Linked DNA regions of Homo sapiens: all the other regions are linked to region 1. A link means that fine-mapping ties the variant in region 1 to the plasma level of a protein whose gene starts in the linked region. Region 1 holds a variant in brackets. A gene starts in each other region. All regions are shown on their forward strands.

What was found. PIP is the chance, under the fine-mapping model, that this variant and not a neighbour inherited with it causes the effect. The UK Biobank Pharma Proteomics Project read protein levels with antibody pairs (Olink). The fine-mapping took linkage between variants from a reference panel, not from the people measured, so its PIPs are less certain.
Region 2: CR2 starts here. The variant in region 1 is fine-mapped to the plasma level of the CR2 protein (UK Biobank, PIP above 0.99).
Region 3: FCRL1 starts here. The variant in region 1 is fine-mapped to the plasma level of the FCRL1 protein (UK Biobank, PIP above 0.99).

The regions. Positions count from the first base shown.
Region 1 is chr17:16,616,480-16,623,319 of GRCh38, forward strand. ZNF624 (zinc finger protein 624) reads right to left here. Exons shown (of 6, transcript NM_020787.4): 6 at 4,255-6,840. The coding sequence ends at 5,809. It also overlaps the pseudogene SRSF6P2. Among named protein-coding and RNA genes, the nearest start is that of ZNF624, 34 kb to the right of the region's middle. The variant G/A (reference allele first, on the strand shown) is at 3,129.
Region 2 is chr1:207,451,197-207,458,036 of GRCh38, forward strand. CR2 (complement C3d receptor 2) reads left to right here and starts at 3,132. Exons shown (of 20, transcript NM_001006658.3): 1 at 3,132-3,280. The coding sequence starts at 3,223. RefSeq lists silencers at 2,971-3,200, 3,581-3,690.
Region 3 is chr1:157,818,079-157,823,078 of GRCh38, forward strand. It overlaps FCRL1 (Fc receptor like 1), which reads right to left and starts at 2,042. Exons shown (of 11, transcript NM_052938.5): 1 at 1,929-2,042. The coding sequence starts at 1,959.

The DNA.
Region 1 (6,840 bases):
GTTAATTTAAAAATAAGCAAACAAATAAAACAACAAAAAAACCCTGCCAGCAGATCTGGCTGAAATACTTAAAACAAACAAACAAACAAACAAAAACTAAATGAGCTTAATCTTTACAAAAGTTATGTTAGCTCAAAAGCTATAAAATCATAGTTATCTTAATTCTACAAAGAAGGGAGAGGGTCTTCATGCCACCATTTCCTTAAACCTCATCTTTTTCATCCAATTTGGCCACATATCAAATTTCTGTGTGCCCCTGTTTTCAAGAGATTCCTCTTGCAGAAGAGACCAAGTATAAACATGGAAGAGTAACTGCCTAAGCAGGAAAGTGTTCCATAATAGTGTGCAGACAACAAGAGAGTTCTGAGTTAATCCCTGGAACTCGACCTGGACCTTGATCTTGACTTTGAGCGAGATCTAGAACAGGATCTTGAAGTAGCTCTTTTTGGTGGAGGGGACACAGAGCGGGCCTTTCAGGGTGGACCAGGTAGCGGCGAATTGGAACGGGACTGGCTCCTTGATCTGGATTTTGACTTTGTATGACCCTTTCCATTTTCTTTGGGGGATCCGGACCGAGACCTGCTTCGATATTTCTCATACTCATCCTTAGATCTGCTTCGAGAATGTGAATGGGAGCCCCGATCAGACTTGGGCTTAGATTTGCTCTTTGATCTAGATTTCCTGCCTTTTGATCGAGAACGTGATCGACCTTTGCTCCGCGACCTGGAACGGGAGCGACTTTTTGAGACACTTCCAGATCTACTGCGGCTGCTCCTGCGACTCCTACTTCGTGACCATCTTCTAGATCGAGACCTGGATCTGCTTCCAGAGTAAGATCGCCTATGGCTTGTGCGTGGCTTATCTTCAATAAGCCTAATATTTCTGCCATTTATTTCTGTGCCATCCAGTTTGTCCAAAGCACGCTTCATGTCAGAGTAGGAGCGAAACTCAATTACACCCTCATTTGTTCCTTCCTTGTGGGCATCCGCACAGGTTACTTAACCTGCTTGTCGCATAAAATCCTTTAAATCTCTCCAACTGCACAGACTAGAAAGATTTTCTACAATAAGCCTGTATTCTGTACGAACAGGTGGTCCGTATTTGTCTCTGCCAGATGTCTCCGACTGCTGTATCCACCTCCACCACGGCGGCTTCCGTAGCTGTAGCTGTCGCGATTGCGACGCGGGCCCCGGGCGTGCTCTACGATCACGCGCTCGCCGCAGAGCTCCTCGCTGTTCAGCTCGTAAAGGGCGTCGTCGGTGTCGCGGGAGTCCTCGAACTCCACGAAGCCGTAGCCATTTTTGAGGTCTACTTCGAGGAGGCGGCCATAGCCACTGAAAAAGCGCTGGATGGCCTTCTCCTGGACGTTGTAGCTTAGGCGTCCTATGTAGACGCGCGGCATGTCCGTGGCGGGCGGGGGCCCAAGGGCTGGTTGTGGAACGGCGGACCGCAAGCCAGTAGCCGCGGTGCGGGTGCGGGGACGGCAAGAGCCCGAACACGCGCCTCACACCATAGTGGCGGCCGAGTCCAGCCACACAATGGTTAGCAACTTCTATAATTGAAAAAATTGTTGCAAAAATATAAGAATTGCTGAAATTTTGAGGTTAGTTCCTCAGGATCCACCTGCCTCAGGTGGATCACTTGAAGTCAGGAGTTCAAGACCAGCCTAGCCAACATGGGGAAATCCCATCTCTACTAAAAAAAAAATACAAAAAATTAGCCGGGTGTGGTGGCAGGCACCTGTAAATCCCAACTACTCGGGAGGCTGAGGTTGCAGTGAGCCGAGATTGTGCCACTGCACTCCAACCTGGGTGACAAAGCAAGGATCCAACTCAAAAACAAACAACAACAAAACCAAATCCCAAAATGTTTAAAGTATCTATATAAATGAAATGTTTTGGAATACTCATAGATTAAATGTCTCAATATTCATGTTTATAACTTCACTTTTCCAGAATTAATCTATGTATCTGATGTAATGCCAACAAAATCCTAGCTTTTTGGTATGGGGTAATTGAAAAAAAAAATCATTCAACAATGTATATGAAAATGCTAAGGACCTAAAATAGTGACAATTTTGAACAAGAACAAAATTAGAAAACATACAGTTTACCCTTGAGCACAAGTTTTAACTGTGTGGGACCACTTATACATGGATTTACTTCTACCTCTGCCACTTGAGACAGCAAGACCAACCCCTCGTCGTCTTCCACCTTAGCCTGCTCAACGTGAAGACGATGAGGATAAAGATCTTGATGATGATCCACTTCTACCTAATGAATAGTAAATATATTTTCTCTCCCTTATTTTCTTAATCATATTTTTTCTCTAGCTTACGTAAGAGTACAGTATCTAATACATACACAAAATATGTGTTAATTGACTATATTATTGGTAAGGCTCCTAGTCAAACGTAGGTTATTAGTAGTTAAGTTTTTGAGGTCAAAAGTTATACAATGATTCTTTATTGTGTAAGGGGTCAGTTCTCCTAACCCCCGAATTGTTCAAAGGTCAACTGTACTATCAGTTTTCATTTAAAATATTTGGTATTGTTACAATAATAAAAGCATACAACGAGACATAGTCCAAAAGACACTAACATGCATGATCATCGGATTTATCATAAATGTTCAACTGCAAAACAAGGGAGAGAGAGGAAGATGGCCTTTTCAATAAATGATGTTGAACAAATTGCTTATTTGTATGAAAAATATTTTGACCTCTACTCCATACCATAAATATTAATTTCAGATGGATCATACACATAAAATAGTAGATATGTGGAAGAGAATGTAGAAAAATATCTTTATGACCTTGAGTTAGGAAAATATTTCTTAAACTGGGCAAAAAAGCACTAATCATAAAGAAAAGTTATTATCAAAATTAAGAACTTCTGTTCATCAAAGGACATCATTTAGAGAGTGAAAAGGTAAGCTGCAGATGAGATATGTGTAATACAAACATCTAAAAAAACCCCGTCTCCAGAATATATAAAGAATCCTACAAATGAGCAAAAATCAGTTCCCAGCTAAAAAATGGCAAAAGTCTTGAACAGGTACTTCCCAAAGAAGATATTTAAAAAGCCAACACATATCGAAAGGAGGGGCTCAACAGCATTATCCACTGAG[G/A]AAGTGCAAATTAAACCCATAATGGAATAGCGGCATGCACAAGAACCAGGCCCTGGGAGCTCACCGTGCCACTGAAACTGCTCTAGTCAGGTTGGTGTGGGTCATCCCCAACCCCTTCCCCAATGGATACTTTTCAGTTCTTTTGTCATTTGAACCTGCTGACCACATTCCTCTTCTTGAGGCGTTTGCCTCTAAGGCAGGAATGGGAGGGAGGGTTTAGATGTAGTGAGGATTCGGAGGCAGAATGGAGGGACCAACAAAGTTGGCACCATGCGATGTCAACTCTGTGACAGCAGGGCTTCTTAAAGGTCTGACTCTCAAACCTTTCAGTCAGAAAGTGGCACATTAACTATCCTCAATGAGGATTGGTCTCTTAGTAATAGTTAATGTTTCACTATTAAACTTCAATCAAAAATGGCCATTTTAACCAGAATGTCAAATTGTTCATTTATGATGGAAGATAATTCACATCAGTGTCTTTCCCAATGTTAAATACATATTTACCCTGGCATCGTGAAAGGGTATTTGATCCTCTTATCCTCCCTGAAGTGTAACTCATCATGCCTTGTTCTTTTTGGATGTCAGGTCTTTGGTCTGTTAGGGCCTTCTGGTATCAGGGACACAGCTTCTGGGTTCCCATTGTTACTCTAGGCCCCTCCTAGCAGAAGTATTTCATAGTGTTCCCAGAACTTCCAAGCCCTCATTTATAGACTTGGGAGTTATTGGCTATTTTCTCTCTCTACACTTCATCATGCAAAGTTCAGAAGCTTTACACGGCCTCTTCCATAAAGACACCTGTTGTTGCCACTGTGACCTTTTCTTTGGTGGCATGTTGAAAGTGGAACTTCTTTCTGAGGCTTGAGGTCTTCTGGTCTACAGCCTGGGCACAAGTTCCAGATATTCTTGGGCACATTTTTCATCTATCTGGAATTTCTATCACCTCCTACAAATGAAACTCAGTGGGTGGTAGGAATAAGATGCTAAGTAACTTTTTTTGGAATTTAGGTAACATCAGAACCAATTTCCATGCTCTAAGATGCATGAGCACCTCTCCCCCTCATTGTATATCCAGCACTGAGGGTAGGTCCTGGCACATTGAAGGTGTCCAATAAATAAAACGCACAACGAAAATATTTTTCCTTTTAATGTAAATATTACAGGTTCATTGCAAGGAAAAAATTAACTTAAAAACACAGAAAAGAAAGTAAAAAACAAAAAATTGATGAACCACTAAAACAGAAATAACCATCATTAATTTTTTGGAGACCATCCTTTCATCTCTCTCAAAAGTTCACATAATTACATAATATTACATTTACAGTTTTATACCATAAAGGCAGCATTTACATTTTTCTGTTTTTACAGTCTCCCCTTCCCTTATCTCTACTTCTCCTTTTCTCACTCCCCTCAAGGTAATCAATATTAACAGCCTGGTGTATATTCTTCCATACCTGTCTCCATGTGCATCTAACCACACACACACACATAAACACAAAATAAATGGGTGTGATTATTTTAACAAAAATGATATATTGTATATATACATTTGTTATAAAGCAATTATTTATCAATACATTGTGGAAATACATTGAAATCAGCTAGCATAGATATAAGTCGTTTTTAAAATTACTCTCACACTGTTCCATAATATGGGTATGTCACAATTTATCTAACCAGTTCCCTATTAATGGGCATTCACTTTGTTTGCAGTTGGGGCTTTGCCCCCCTCTACAAACAGTACTTCAACAAACATGTTTATTTACATTCTTATGCATTGATGCTGCTTTTATTTCTAACGGACAGATTCCAAAAGTGAGACTGCTGGGTCTAAGAGTATATATGTTTTAAATTTTTAAACATATATTGTTGGACTGCTGGTGGAAGTATGTTACACAACCTTTAAGTAATAGTACATGGTTTCCCAAACCCCAATAGCTAGCAAAAGATCTCTTAATTTTTGCCAGATCCATGAAGGGGAAGTTTCATCTCACTGAGCATTTCAATTTGCATTTCCCTGAGTGCTTTTTAGGTTCAAAATATTTTCACAGGATAATGATCACCTACAGTTGCTCTCCTATGAAGAACCATCCAGTCCAGAGGGATTAAAGACTTAAGTGTAAAAAATAAAATCATAAAAATCTTAAAAACACATTTAGGATACTACGTATAACCTAGGGATTAAGGAGATCTCTTTTAAGTAAAATGAGTAAAATAAAAAATCTAAAAAGGAAATGATACAAATATTTTCCTATAAAAATGTTGTGCATTACTATAAAGTATAAAGACAAATGCTAGATTAAGAAAAACATCTGCTACATAATGACAAAGGATTAATATCAAAAATATATAAAAAGCACCTCCAGGTTTATAAGAAAAGACAGATAAATGAATAGAAAAATAGGCAAATACATATATAGGCAATTAACTAAAGATAATTTGTTAAATGAGTAAAGTATGAAATCTGGATGAACACTTTCATTTGTTCATTATTTTCCTCTAGTGAGAGTTTCCTTATAACTTCTAAGATTTAATATTATTAAATGATTTCCCACATAATTGCTTATAGTTTCTCTGTATACTTTCTGATAAATTCCTAATGAAGATTTTCCTATATTCATAAAATATAGTTTATAAGATTCATCTTGTGGAGTTGACATCTAGGTGAATGACTTATTGTTCTTTATATTAACTGAGTTTCTCTTTGATGTATTCTTTGATGTACAGTAAGGCTCGAACTACTCCTGAAGGCTTTTCCACATTCATTACATTTATAGGGTTTTTCTCCAGTATGCATCCTCAAGTGTACAGTAAAGTCTGAGTTAGTTCTGAAGGCTTTTCCACATTCTTCACATTTATAGGGCCTCTCCCCAGTATGAATTCTCTGATGTAGGGTTAGCTGTGATAGAGTAATACAACCCTTTCCACATTCCTTACAGGTGTAGGGTTTTTCTCCAGTGTGTGTTCTCCAATGCACTGTAAGGTAAGAACCCCTCCTGAAGGCTTTTCCACAGACATCACACTTATAGGGCTTCTCTCCACTATGGATTTTCTGATGTTCTGTGACATGTACCATCTGGCTAAATGCTTTCCCACAGTCATTACATTTAAATGGTTTCTCTCCAGTATGTGTTCTTTGATGTGTATTAAAGCCTGAGTTACTTGTGAAAACCTTTCCACATTCATTGCATTTATAGGGCTTCTCTCCAGTATGCCTTCGTTGGTGCACGGTAAGCTGTGATGTATTAGTGAAGGCTTTCTCACATTCATTACATTTATATGGTTTTTCTCCAGTATGGGTCCTCTGATGTACAATAAGGTATGATTTAGTCCTAAAGGACTTTCCACAGTCATAACATTTATAGGGTTTCACTCCAGTATGAATTTTCTGATGCTCCTTGAGATTTACCATTTTGGTGAATGCCCTCTCGCAGTCAGTACATTTATATGGTTTCTCTCCAGTGTGAATTCTCTGATGTACAGTTAAGTGTGATTTTATTCTGAAAGACTCCCCACATTCATTGCACAGATAAGGTTTCTCTTCAGTATGAATACGCTGATGTATAATTAGAGAAGAAGAACGCATGAAGGCCTTTCCACATTCAGTACATTTATAAGGTTTCTCTCCTGTATGCATTCTGTGGTGTACAGTAAGGCATGAATAATTAATGAATGCTTTCCCACATTCATTACATTTATAGGGTTTTTCTCCTGT
Region 2 (6,840 bases), not on the chromosome of region 1:
TAAAAACAACCAAACTGTCCATACATAGGGAGATGGTTGAATAAACTATGGCATATCCACACAGTGAAGTATTGCATGCAACTGTAAAAATGAATGAGGAATATTTGAATTTGTAGGAAATAGTGGATTCCAGCATATTTGTTAAGTTAAAAAAGAAATGTGCAAAAGAATACCTATAGCATGCTTTTAAAATGTAATAAAAAAGGAGAACTAAGAAGACAAATGTGTAGCAGCTCATTTGAGCAAAACTAAGGACAAACCAGAAACTACTGAAATTGAGTACCTATGGTGGAGAGGATAGAGGTGATGGAGAGAAGTGACATTTCCCTTTTATTGTGTCTTTTTATATCAATCTGACATTTGGGACTACGTTAATGTTTTATTTAAGCAAAAAAAAATCAAAAAGATTGAGGGGAAACTAAAATAGAATACAAAGAGAAACAAATTAACAGTATTTTGAATGAATAACAATCACACTGAAGAGGGGGAATAATCTGAGTAACTTTGGAACACAACAATGCTGTTTTTATATTTTCGGGCTATAAACAAAATAAAACTTTAAAAACGAGTAGATTTGATTTCCATCATAGTATAGAAATAGCAATTTTAAACTTCTTTCTGTGTATTCTAGGATTAAGCAAATAAGTAAATATATTGTGGATCTAGGTGTCTCACTGTTGAAGAAGGGAGTTACACATGCAGAAAGAGGGAAGGACAGAATGAACTCTATGCTAACGGACTGAAATTGGAAGAATCACTGTGAATTCATGACATATATAAATATAGATATGGGAATGGATATACATATATATATATAATACATATCCTTGCTCTGTCTGCTGAGAGGGTGCGGAAACAATGATACTCCAATAAAAATGAACACACTTAGCATCCAATTCTGGCATCTAAATGCCATTCTCTGCCAGAAAGAACCAGCATTCCTTGGAGAAACAGCAAATTCCAGTGTCAGGTCTAGAGGTGAGTCTGGAGCATTTTTTTTTGTGTGTGTGCCAGAAAGTAAGGAAGTGCTCAAAGAACAATAAGAACAAGTCAAAATGACATAGGAACTATTTTGAGGGCTCCCACTGGCCCGATCAGGGAGAATTTAAGCATCAAAATAAATAATGGTAGCCATGAATTATGACCCATTGAGTAAATAAATAAAATTCATATTGATATAGTTTATGCTGATATAGATAAATGAATAAATAAATAGAGAAGGGAAAACTTTTATTTACAGTAAAATGCCAACAGATGAATATAGAAGTAATTATTAAATTAGGAAAAAACACCCTTTGACAACCATCATAGTAAAAATTGATTCAAGAAAGGATCATCAATAGACGCTAAAATTTGTGGGTAAAAATTTGATGAAAAAATGAGGAATTTACATAGTTTTAAAGTATCTCCCTATAAAATACTTATTAATTACAAAGGGAAAAATACTGAGTCTACACTAAGAAACATGGCAGGCACCATCTTAACTAAGTGATCAAAGTTACCACCACCAGTAATAGGACAAATAGACAACATATGCCTCCCCGTAAGGATAAGACATCCTTTCTGGTATTCCTGTCAAATAATTAGATTCAATAACCTGAATCTATCATGAAGAAATGATAGACAAATCCAAATTGTGGGGTGTGATCCTGTCTCCTGACATTACCATCCACGTATACTGCCCTCCTACACTGAAAAGGGCTGATCTGTACAATCAATTGGATATTCTGGAGTTAACATATTGTGATTTCTGAGGACAGGTCACAAAGGACATTATGGCTTCTTCTTTCTTGTTCTCAGAGACGCTAGCTGGCATGTCACGAGGACACTCAACACACAAGCAGCGAGCCCTATGGCAAAATCCACGTGGTGAAGAATGAAGCTTCCAGCCAAAGGCTGGTAAGTGAGCCATCTTAGATGTGGATTCGCCTATCCCAGTTAACCCTTCAGATGACTGCACCTCCAGCTGGTGTCTTAACTGCAATCTCCTGAGCGATCCCAAGCCAGAACCACCTGACCGACCCACAGAAACTGTGAGATCATAAATGTTTATTCTTGCTTTACACCACTACCTTCAGGGTAATTTGTTATTATAATAGATAACGGACTTAAAAGTCATTCTCCAAAAATAATTGTGGTGTATTCGTCAAAAATGTAAAGGTCATGCAATACCAAAAATGCTGAGGACATTTTTCCAGAATAAAGAACTGGGGGTGGGGGGAAGGCATAATGATCAAACACAATACATGATCCTGAAATGATTCTGGACCAGGAAAAACAAAGGTTGGTTTCTATTGTTGTTATTGTTTTTACCATAACACAGGTTATTGAGATGATTGTCAAAATTTAAATACAGATGGTAGCTTATAGTCTTGTGTCAATGTTAAGTTCTTATTTTTGATCATTGCACTCTAGTTATGGAACAGAAAGTCCTTAGTGAACCATTTAGAATAGGAATAAATGCTAGATGGTTCCAAAGTAATAATTATATAATTATAATTATATAATCACATATATGTACATATATGTCTATAGAGAAAGAATAGAGAATGGTAAAGAAAATACAGCAAAATGTTAACATGCAGAGAATCTGGGTGACAAGTATATGGGAATTCTCTGCAGTACTCTTGAAACTTTTCTGTAGAGATTACTTCAAAATAAAGAACAGAGCAGAAGTGGCTGCTGTTCCTAAATTCCCTAAGTAAACTTACACTGCTTTTTCAAACTGGGAGATGAATCCACTAATAGGTTTTGAAATGAGTTTGGTGGATTTCTAATAAGAATAGGATAGCCTAGCCTAGTCTAGCATAACACAGCATGGCACAGAGGACGAACATTGTAGATTACTAAGGGTGAGTACTAACTTGTGAAAGTTTTGTTTAAGTTCTAGTAAGAGAAACAAGTGAGTGTAGTGGGTTGCGTGGTCAAAAAAGTGGGGAAGCCACCGCAACGAGGGGTGAGTCTGAGCCAAAGAGTGGCTCAGAGCTCCCCGCCCACCTCGTGCCGGGCCGTCCCTCCCGCTTGTCCCACCCTCACCGGCGCCGCGTCAGCCCCCAGGCCGCCTGCAGGTGTGCGCTCAGAACTAGCACGTGTGCCGGACACTATTTAAGGGCCCGCCTCTCCTGGCTCACAGCTGCTTGCTGCTCCAGCCTTGCCCTCCCAGAGCTGCCGGACGCTCGCGGGTCTCGGAACGCATCCCGCCGCGGGGGCTTCGGCCGTGGCATGGGCGCCGCGGGCCTGCTCGGGGTTTTCTTGGCTCTCGTCGCACCGGGGGTCCTCGGTGAGCTGGGAGGGGGAGCACGGAGGTGGGGACGCGTCCCGGGCAGGGAAAGTTTCTGTGCCGCGATGCAAAGCAGGGGGCCAAAAGCGAGACGGTGGGGGCAGTGCTCGACGCGTGTCCGCCTCCCGCTAGCTTTGAGGGACCACTGCAATAAACCGCCTGGTCCTGATTGTCCCCACTGGCCCCTCCGGGAGCTGGGACCTCCAGAATTGGAGGCTGCGCCACAGAGGGGCGCTGTCTGGTCGGCCCGGTGTGGCTGGCGGCGTGCGGGTGCTCGCGGTCTCCTGCCGGGCTCCCCGCCCCCAGGATTCTGCAGGTGCTCATCGCTCTCTGGCCGGCGGTCAGCGCTACCGCTCGCCACGGGAAACCTACCCACTGCATGAGGCACCAGCTAGCCACGTGAGGCTGTTTCTGTACACCCGAACCGCGCTCTTGCCCAGCAAAAGCGGCAGAACCTCGGCTCCCTTCCCTAAATAAGAGTAAGACCTGGTTCCCAAGCATGGGTCTCAGATTTTCTGAACTCTAATGTGATATTGGTAGAGATCCTAAACATTAACCATCCGTAGTTATTTTTGAGACATGGATTAAAACTATTGTTTTCTTCTTGTTATTAACCTACTGTAATGGTGTGGACGTCCGCAAAGGTCTCATTCACCGTTTATTATATCTTTTTTTCCTCCAGATTGGCTTGATTTTAAAGAAAGATTATAATTAAGATTAGCGTCTCTTGGCTACAGGATGGGTCTAAGTTTCTAATTATCTCCACGGTACCGTGCATTCCTAGTTTATAAGACGTTTACTGTGTGCAGACCTCAATAACTGGGTGACTTTTGGCAAGTCATTTAGCTCCCTGATCTTCAGTTTCTTCATCTGTAAAATGAAACTAGTGATTAACTGGCCTTCCACCTCACTGAGCTGCCCTGAGCACAGATGAAACTAAGCAAAGAAAGTTGGATGTTAGTCGTTACTACTAAATATCAGTAATAAGCCTCCTGTACAGACTTGATTTTATGGAGCCAGCATTTAAGCTAACAAGCTGGGTGTCCAATTGTTTCTATGGACATCCAGCTTATTGAGGTGTCTGGAATACAGCACATATTAGTTTATTACAACTTTTTGCTTTCCTGACATTTTACTGTCTCCTGACCCTTAAACCTTTCTCCAGACCATTATCTTCATCTCTTTTCTTTTTCTGCATATTAACTCCCTTTGAACAAATGTATATTCACACTTTTTCTAAGAGCAGAGTACGTCCCTGACTTCTCACCTATTTCTAAATTTCAAAGAGGATATTATCAACTGAAAATCAAATTCTTCACCAGTCCTGCCAATTCAGGGCCACAGCAGCAGCATCATGTAGGTCACTTAACTGGAGCCCCATGAAATACCAGGTCTACCTATCAGCCATTCAAGCTACTGTGCTTCTGTTGTTTGTCCATTTCTCATTTTTGTACCAGTATTCCCATCCTAAGCATTATAATTACCTGTGTAACAACCTCATCTCTTTTAAGAGATTTTGGTTCTTATGATTGGAAAGGTTAAAGAGTGACCTATAGGTCACTTTCCAATTATGAAAACAAAAAATTAAGAAATATATATATTTTCATTATTTCACTCCATTGTTCAAAAATCTAAAAGGCCTCCAGTGGAAGAAAATCTGGTGTCTTCAGCCTTTCTAGCCCTTTGGAATGGGATCTCACCGAAGCTCACACCCCCTGATTTCTCCAGCTGCCTGTCTTGTATGCGCTGCTCATGGTCTTCCCCACCTGTCTCCCATGGCTCATGCTTTGCCCACTCTCCACTGCTAACTTTTACTGCTACTGCATGCTCTCCACACATCATCTCTTGGCCAGTTCCTGCACTTGAGTGTGCTTAATAAAATACTAAAGTACCTTTATAAAATGTAGGTTCCTGGTTCCACCTCCCCCTCCAGAGGTTCATAGGTTTGGAGTTAGCACAGGAAAGCTGAGGTTTAACAATCACTCTAGAAGATTCTGCAACAAGTATCTATAGGGCACACTGCTATAAGCAAAGTCAATGGAAGCAAATTTCCTTTTTAGTGTTTTCCTATTTTTCCTTTTGTCTATTTGCATAAACAGTTTCAAATTTCCTACACTTCTAGATTTTACTCAAGCCTTCAGTGGCCACCTAACTTTATCCTATGCTGAGAAAACAAAACCATGAAACAAGAATGCTCCCATTTTCTAATCGGCTACAAACCTACCAACTTACAAACTTACCTCCATCTAGAATCAGATTTTGTTCTCCACTGCAGAAAACCTGCTGAGGCCTTCCCGTCACATTAGAATAAAACCCATACCCCTTATTCTCCAGTCTGAGGCCTTCTGCCTCTCCCTGAAATTCTCTGTACCCCACTCACTCTCTCTGCCCCAGCCACACTGGCCTTCTCTTTATTCTTTGAGCACAATTGCACTAGGTATTCTCTCTTTTGAAATGCTCTTCCTACAAATTATTCTTTGCCTGTCTCCTTGACATTCAAGGCTCAGCCCTCTGTTGTGCTTCTCTGACTCTTGTCTGAAGTATCCATATTCCAGGGTACTCTCCAATACAAAACTGTGTTCTATTTTCTACAGACCACCTATCACCATCTAAAACCTTCTTCCTTATTTATGTACCTGTTTGTTGTTTGTTCCCTCACTGGAATACAAGTTCCATGAGTGCAAGACCTTAATCTGCCTTATTTCCTGATTTGAGTTCCTATCAATAGCCTGTAATTTGGAATTCAATAAATATGAATTGAAATCTTGGTATGTTTCCTCCTATAACAATGAAAGAAGTATCCATTCTGCTGACAAATTCAGCTCCTTTTCCTGTATTCATGATCATGTTCCATACCCTCTTGCCTTTGCAAGGACTTTACTTCTGCAGATATCTCCTACCTTGCATCATCAATGTACCTCTTTCTGTATGATCATCCCCACCAGCATTTAAGTATACCCCAGGAAATCCTTTATGGACCTTCTCATGACCCACTGGAACTCCATTTTCCTGTCCCTCTTCTTGTTCTTCTCAGCAAAACTTTTCATTGACTACTTACTCAAATTTCGTTATCTCCTTCTCCACTTCAGACAGGCTTCTTCCCCACAGTCTCCTGAAGCTGTTTCTTGCAATGTCGCTACTGACCCTTATGCTGATAAATCCAATGGTCATTTTTCTATGTTAATCTTTCTCAGTCTTTCAGCAAAAACTGATGACTTCCTTTACCTTGAAACCATTATCATTCTCATCTTCCAAACCAAGACACTCTTACCTGTTTTTTCCATACTTCCCTGTTGTCTCTTAGTCTTTTTTGTTCTATCTCTAAATATTAGAGGGTCTTGGGGCTCAGCCCTGAGCCTCTTCTTTCTTCATTTCTTCTTCCTAAAAAACCTCAACTCATCTTGTCTCATGGCTTTGAATACTATTTATATGTTGATGACTCATATTTATTATCTATAGTTCTGTCCTCTCTCCTGAGCTGCAAACTGCCTACTTGGCATCTTGATGTGGATGCCTAGTGTGTTAGATATACCAAGTCTGAATGGAAATGATTCTGAACA
Region 3 (5,000 bases), not on the chromosome of region 1:
TTATGGAAGACAGTATGGAGGCTCTTAAAATATAAAAAATGGAACTACCATATGGTTCAGCCATCCCACTACTGGACATGTATCCAGAGGAAATTAAAGCAGTGTGTTAAAGAGATATCTGCACTCCCACATTTATTGCAGCACTATTCACGATAGCCAAGACAGCATCAATGTAGATGTTCATCAAAAAATTAATGGATAAAGAAAATGCAATATACATACATGATGGAATACTATTCAGACATAAAAAATAATGAAATCCTATCATTTACAACAACATGGGTGAGCCTGAAGGATATTATGTTAAATGAAATGAGGTAGGCACAGGATGACAAGTACTGCATTATCTCACTCATGTGGAATCTGAAAACGTTGATCTCATAGAAGGACGGTGCAGAATCATGGTTACAAGAAGCTTGGGTAATAGTGGGGAAGGAGGAATGAGGGAAATGTTGCTCAAGGGATATATAATTACAGTTAGATATGGGGTGTGTGTCCAGAATAGACAAATATAGAGAGACAGAAAGTAGATAATGATTGCATGTGGCCAGAAAATAGAGGGGTGAGGATAGGTGAGGCGTTGGAAAAAAAATTGGGGATGCCTGCTAGTGGGTATGGCGTTCTTTCTTGGGTGATGAAAACATTCTGAAATTGATTGTGGTGATAGTTGCACCACTCAGTGATTGTCATAAAAAACCATTGGATTGCATAACTTAAATGGTGAATTGTATTATATGTGAATAATATTTCAATAAAGCTGTTTTTAATAAAAGATACTGTAGCATGTTTGTATACTTATGGGAATAATTTAGAATGAAGAAACATATTGATGATGGAGCAAACTTTTTGAGAAAGTAAGAGGGTCATGGGCCTAATGCACAAGTGGAGAGTCTTGTCATCAACAAGATGAGGGGCAATATATTCGTGGTAGGGGAAGAGAAGGCAGTGTATGTGAATGCAGAGGTGAGTAGGTCAACAGCAACAGAAAGATGAGAGAGTTTTCTTCTGACTGCTTTTATTTTCTCAATGAAATATGAAGCAAGATTACACAATGAGAGTGAACAGAGAAGTATGAGGTGACAGGATAAGGTATGCAATAGTGATAATGGAGCAACATGGACTGTGAACATGTAGGATAATTGCCTGGCATTGCTGTTGGCTACCTGAGATTTGGGGGTCCTACACTTAAAAGGGGATAAGTCATCAGGGTTGTGCATTTAAAAAAAAATCCCATTCAGCTGTTTATGTCCAGGAGTGAAGCATGCAGAAGGGCGTGTAAACCAGGAGAGTGCTATGGGGGAAGAGAGATGAAGGTGTGCTCGAGGGAGTGTTGTGGTGGTGAGCTGCAGAATCTGAGCTGAGCACCATGAGAAGTGAGCACATGAAGTGTAGTTACTGATAATGGAAAAGTAGCCCTGGGGTAATTGAAGTCATGTTGGAAATAGAGTGCAGGAGAAAGTGAGCTAGAAACACAACTTAGTGGGGGTGGGGGATGTATGCTGAAAACAAAGGAGTGATGATAAGTTCTAAGGTTTGACTGTGGGAATGGGGAGTCAGAGAGGGATAAAAGGAAATAACGTTGGTAGTAAGAAGGGCAAGGAATTCAGAGGCCTATTTATTATACAGATTTTTCTTTTGGCAGCTGTTGAAAACACTGAGAACAAAGACAATTATTGATGGAAAGGAAGACAGACAGTGAACACTTCCTATGAGATAAAAACTGAAATGATAGTTTTCTTGAAAACTCTGGCTTTTTGAAATATCTACAACTTTTTGCCTGACTCTGAGCCCTCCGTGGAAGTGGAGATCTGAGCACCCCTGAGCATTACCTGACAGAACCTTAGTCCTAAGAAGTCCTTACAGCCCTTCAGGAAGCAGAGCCCAAGCATGATTGCATCCCATGCCCTGCTCTGAGTTGCCCAACTCACCACAGATCAACAGCAACAGCCTCGGCAGCATGAGGACCAGGTCAGGGATGGTACCTAGAGATGCCTCTCATCAAAAAAAGAATGCACCTCAGAGTCGAGCAGCAGCAGCTCATCAGAGGTTTGAGGAAGTTGATATCGGAAGTTACCCTTCAGCAGAAGTAGAAGGAAGAAGAACCCTCTAGTGACCAGTCTCCATTTCCTTTTCTATGAAGTCTGAGAAAATTAAAGATGCTCCTTTTTAAATATAGTTTGATTCAGTTCCACAAGCTGCAGATAGTACACATCAATATTTGAGGGACTTTTTCAAGAATTCAGGTATTTCAAAGGAAGTTTTCTAAAGGCAGTTTCCTACTTTGATGAGTCTCATCAGGTTATGGTCCTGCTGAAATTCATCTTTGATACATCTACAATACTTTTCACCTTTGATAGGGATGTCTCCTGGATTGTTTCTAATTGGCACATTCTTCTTGCTCAGCAATATAGTCCCACTATGCAAACTTTCTCTAGTATAGTCATATTATGCAAACATGTCATTAAATCAGGGACTGATGGGGCTGTCACCCCGGTTATGTGTAGTGTCTGACCCTTGCTGCATATGATGACTTATGTACAGGGTCAACCTATTCATACAGATATACGCTTTGATATTCAAACTTTCAGTGTACCAGTAAATGAGCATGAAATCACTGAAAAATAAAATCACGGCAAATTACAATCTGGGGGATATTTGAAAATGAAATACAGAAAAGAAGTATATGCAAATTAGCTTCAGGGCACTTGAGAAGGGTTCACCATTAGTACTAACTCTGGCATTTGTAAAATTGCCCCTCTTTTCCCTCAAAATCAGGGCACCTATAATCTCTCCCATTGCTACCTTTAGCACATTAGGGATACCAGTTCTAGGCAAGTGAAGCCTAGATTAGGGATTGGAGGAGAATAAGCTATCTTAATTTTCAACATTTCTTAAATCCGTGAGTGTCTAGGATTAAGAATAACTAGAATGTGTGGAAAGTAACCTATTAGGGGAAAGATGCTGTCAGGCAATGATGTCTAAGTCCAGGTATCCAGCTCAATGAGTATGACTGAGAAAAGAAACTATTCAGTGATACGCAAAACCAGAGGGAAAAGGGAGCAATGTTGGTAACCAGGCTAACAGCGAAAGTGCTGAAAACGAATAGGTATTCCATAGCTTTATTTATTGGCTTAGGAAAGCCTGTGTGGGGATAAGCTTGTTTAGTGTAAAGTTTCAGGACCAATGCAAAAAAATCTCCTGAATGAGAATGTAGAGCCCTTTAAATCCAGGGTGTAAAGCTGTTTTTGCATACACTCTGCTGTTTCATCTCTCTCTTTTTCTTTTAATCTGTTGGTTTTTTTAATGTTTTAATTGACACATTGTAATTGTACATATTTATGGGGCACAGTTTGACATTGCAATATAATACATATATATGTTGTACAGTGATGATCAAATCAGGGTGGTTGGCATATCCATTGTCTCGTGCAGTTTTCATTTCTATGTGGTGAGAACATTCAAAAGCCTCTTTCCTAGCTATTTTGTAATATATAATACCTTACTAGTAACCATAGTTACCCTACTGTGCAATAAAACACCAAACCTTATTCCTCCTATCGAATTGGCACCTTGTACCTGTTGACCAATCTTTCCCTCTCTTCCCTCCTCATTCCCTCCTCAGTCTCTGATAGATGCTATTCTATGCTATACTTCCATAATATCAACTTCTTATTTTTTTCAGATTCCACATATAAGTAAGTTCATGTGGTATTTGTCTTTCTGTGTCTGGCTTGGTTCACTTAACATGATGTCCTCCAGCTTCATCATGTTGTCACAAATGACAGGATTTCATTTTGTATGGCTGAATGGTATTCCGTTGTATATATACACCACATTTTCTTTATGGATTCATCTGTTGTTGGGGTCTTAGGTTGATTCTCATCACATCTCTTCCTGTGTGTCCTGCTCCAGTGCCTTCACAAGATGTTCAGATTAAAATGTGTTTCCTCCTCCACAGATATAAAGGCTATAACATTTTATTTGTTAAGCTCTCTCACACTTTTATTTTTATAATGTGATAGTTCATGCATGCATACAAAAAAGTAACATGAATATAAATTATGAAATACTACGATGAAATGAAAAGCCATGAGCCTATCCCCAGACTGTTTTAAGAACTTGAACATAAGGCGGGCGGATCACGAGGTCAGGAGATCGAGACCATCCTGGCTAACACAGTGAAACCCCGTCTCTACTAAAAAACACAAAAAATTAGCCGGGCGTGGTGGCGGGCGCCTGTAGTCCCAGCTGCGCGGGAGGCTGAGGCAGGAGAATGGCGTGAACCCGGGAGGCGGAGCTTGCAGTGAGCCGAGATCGCGCCACTGCACTCCAGCCTGGGTGACAGAGCGAGACTCCGTCTCAAAAAAAAAAAAAAAAAAAAAAAAAAAAAAAAAGAACTTGAACATAACATGATACTATTACATCTACTTGAGTGTGCCTTTTCTAACCCACTCCTCGTGTACTCTCCAGAAGTAATTACCACTCTGAATATTTTGTTTATAGTTCTCTTTCTTAAAAATCAGCTTATCGAGTTATAATTAATATACATTGAAATGAACCCATCATAAGTATATGATTCAATGATTTTTGACAAACATACACACTGATGTAAAAGCAATCACTGTCATGATCTAGAACATTTCCATCATCTCAATGGGTTTCCTTGTGTGCCTTCCCAGTCACCCCAAACCTCCCAGAACCAGGTAACTCTCCATCTGCTTTCTATAGATTTGATTTGCCTTTTCTAGAATTTCCTACAAATTGAAACATATAATATTTACTCTTTTGTTTCTAAGTTCTTTCCTTTTGCATAATATTTTTGAGATTCATCCATGTAGTATGAATAAAGCTGCTATAAACATTCATGTACAAAATTTTGGGTGACTATTCCAGGGTGGAATTATTGAATGAGAATATGCTTATGTTTTCAGGAAACTTAAATTACTTCCCTACTTGATTTTTACTATTTTACATTCCCACCAGCAGTCTGAATTCCAGTT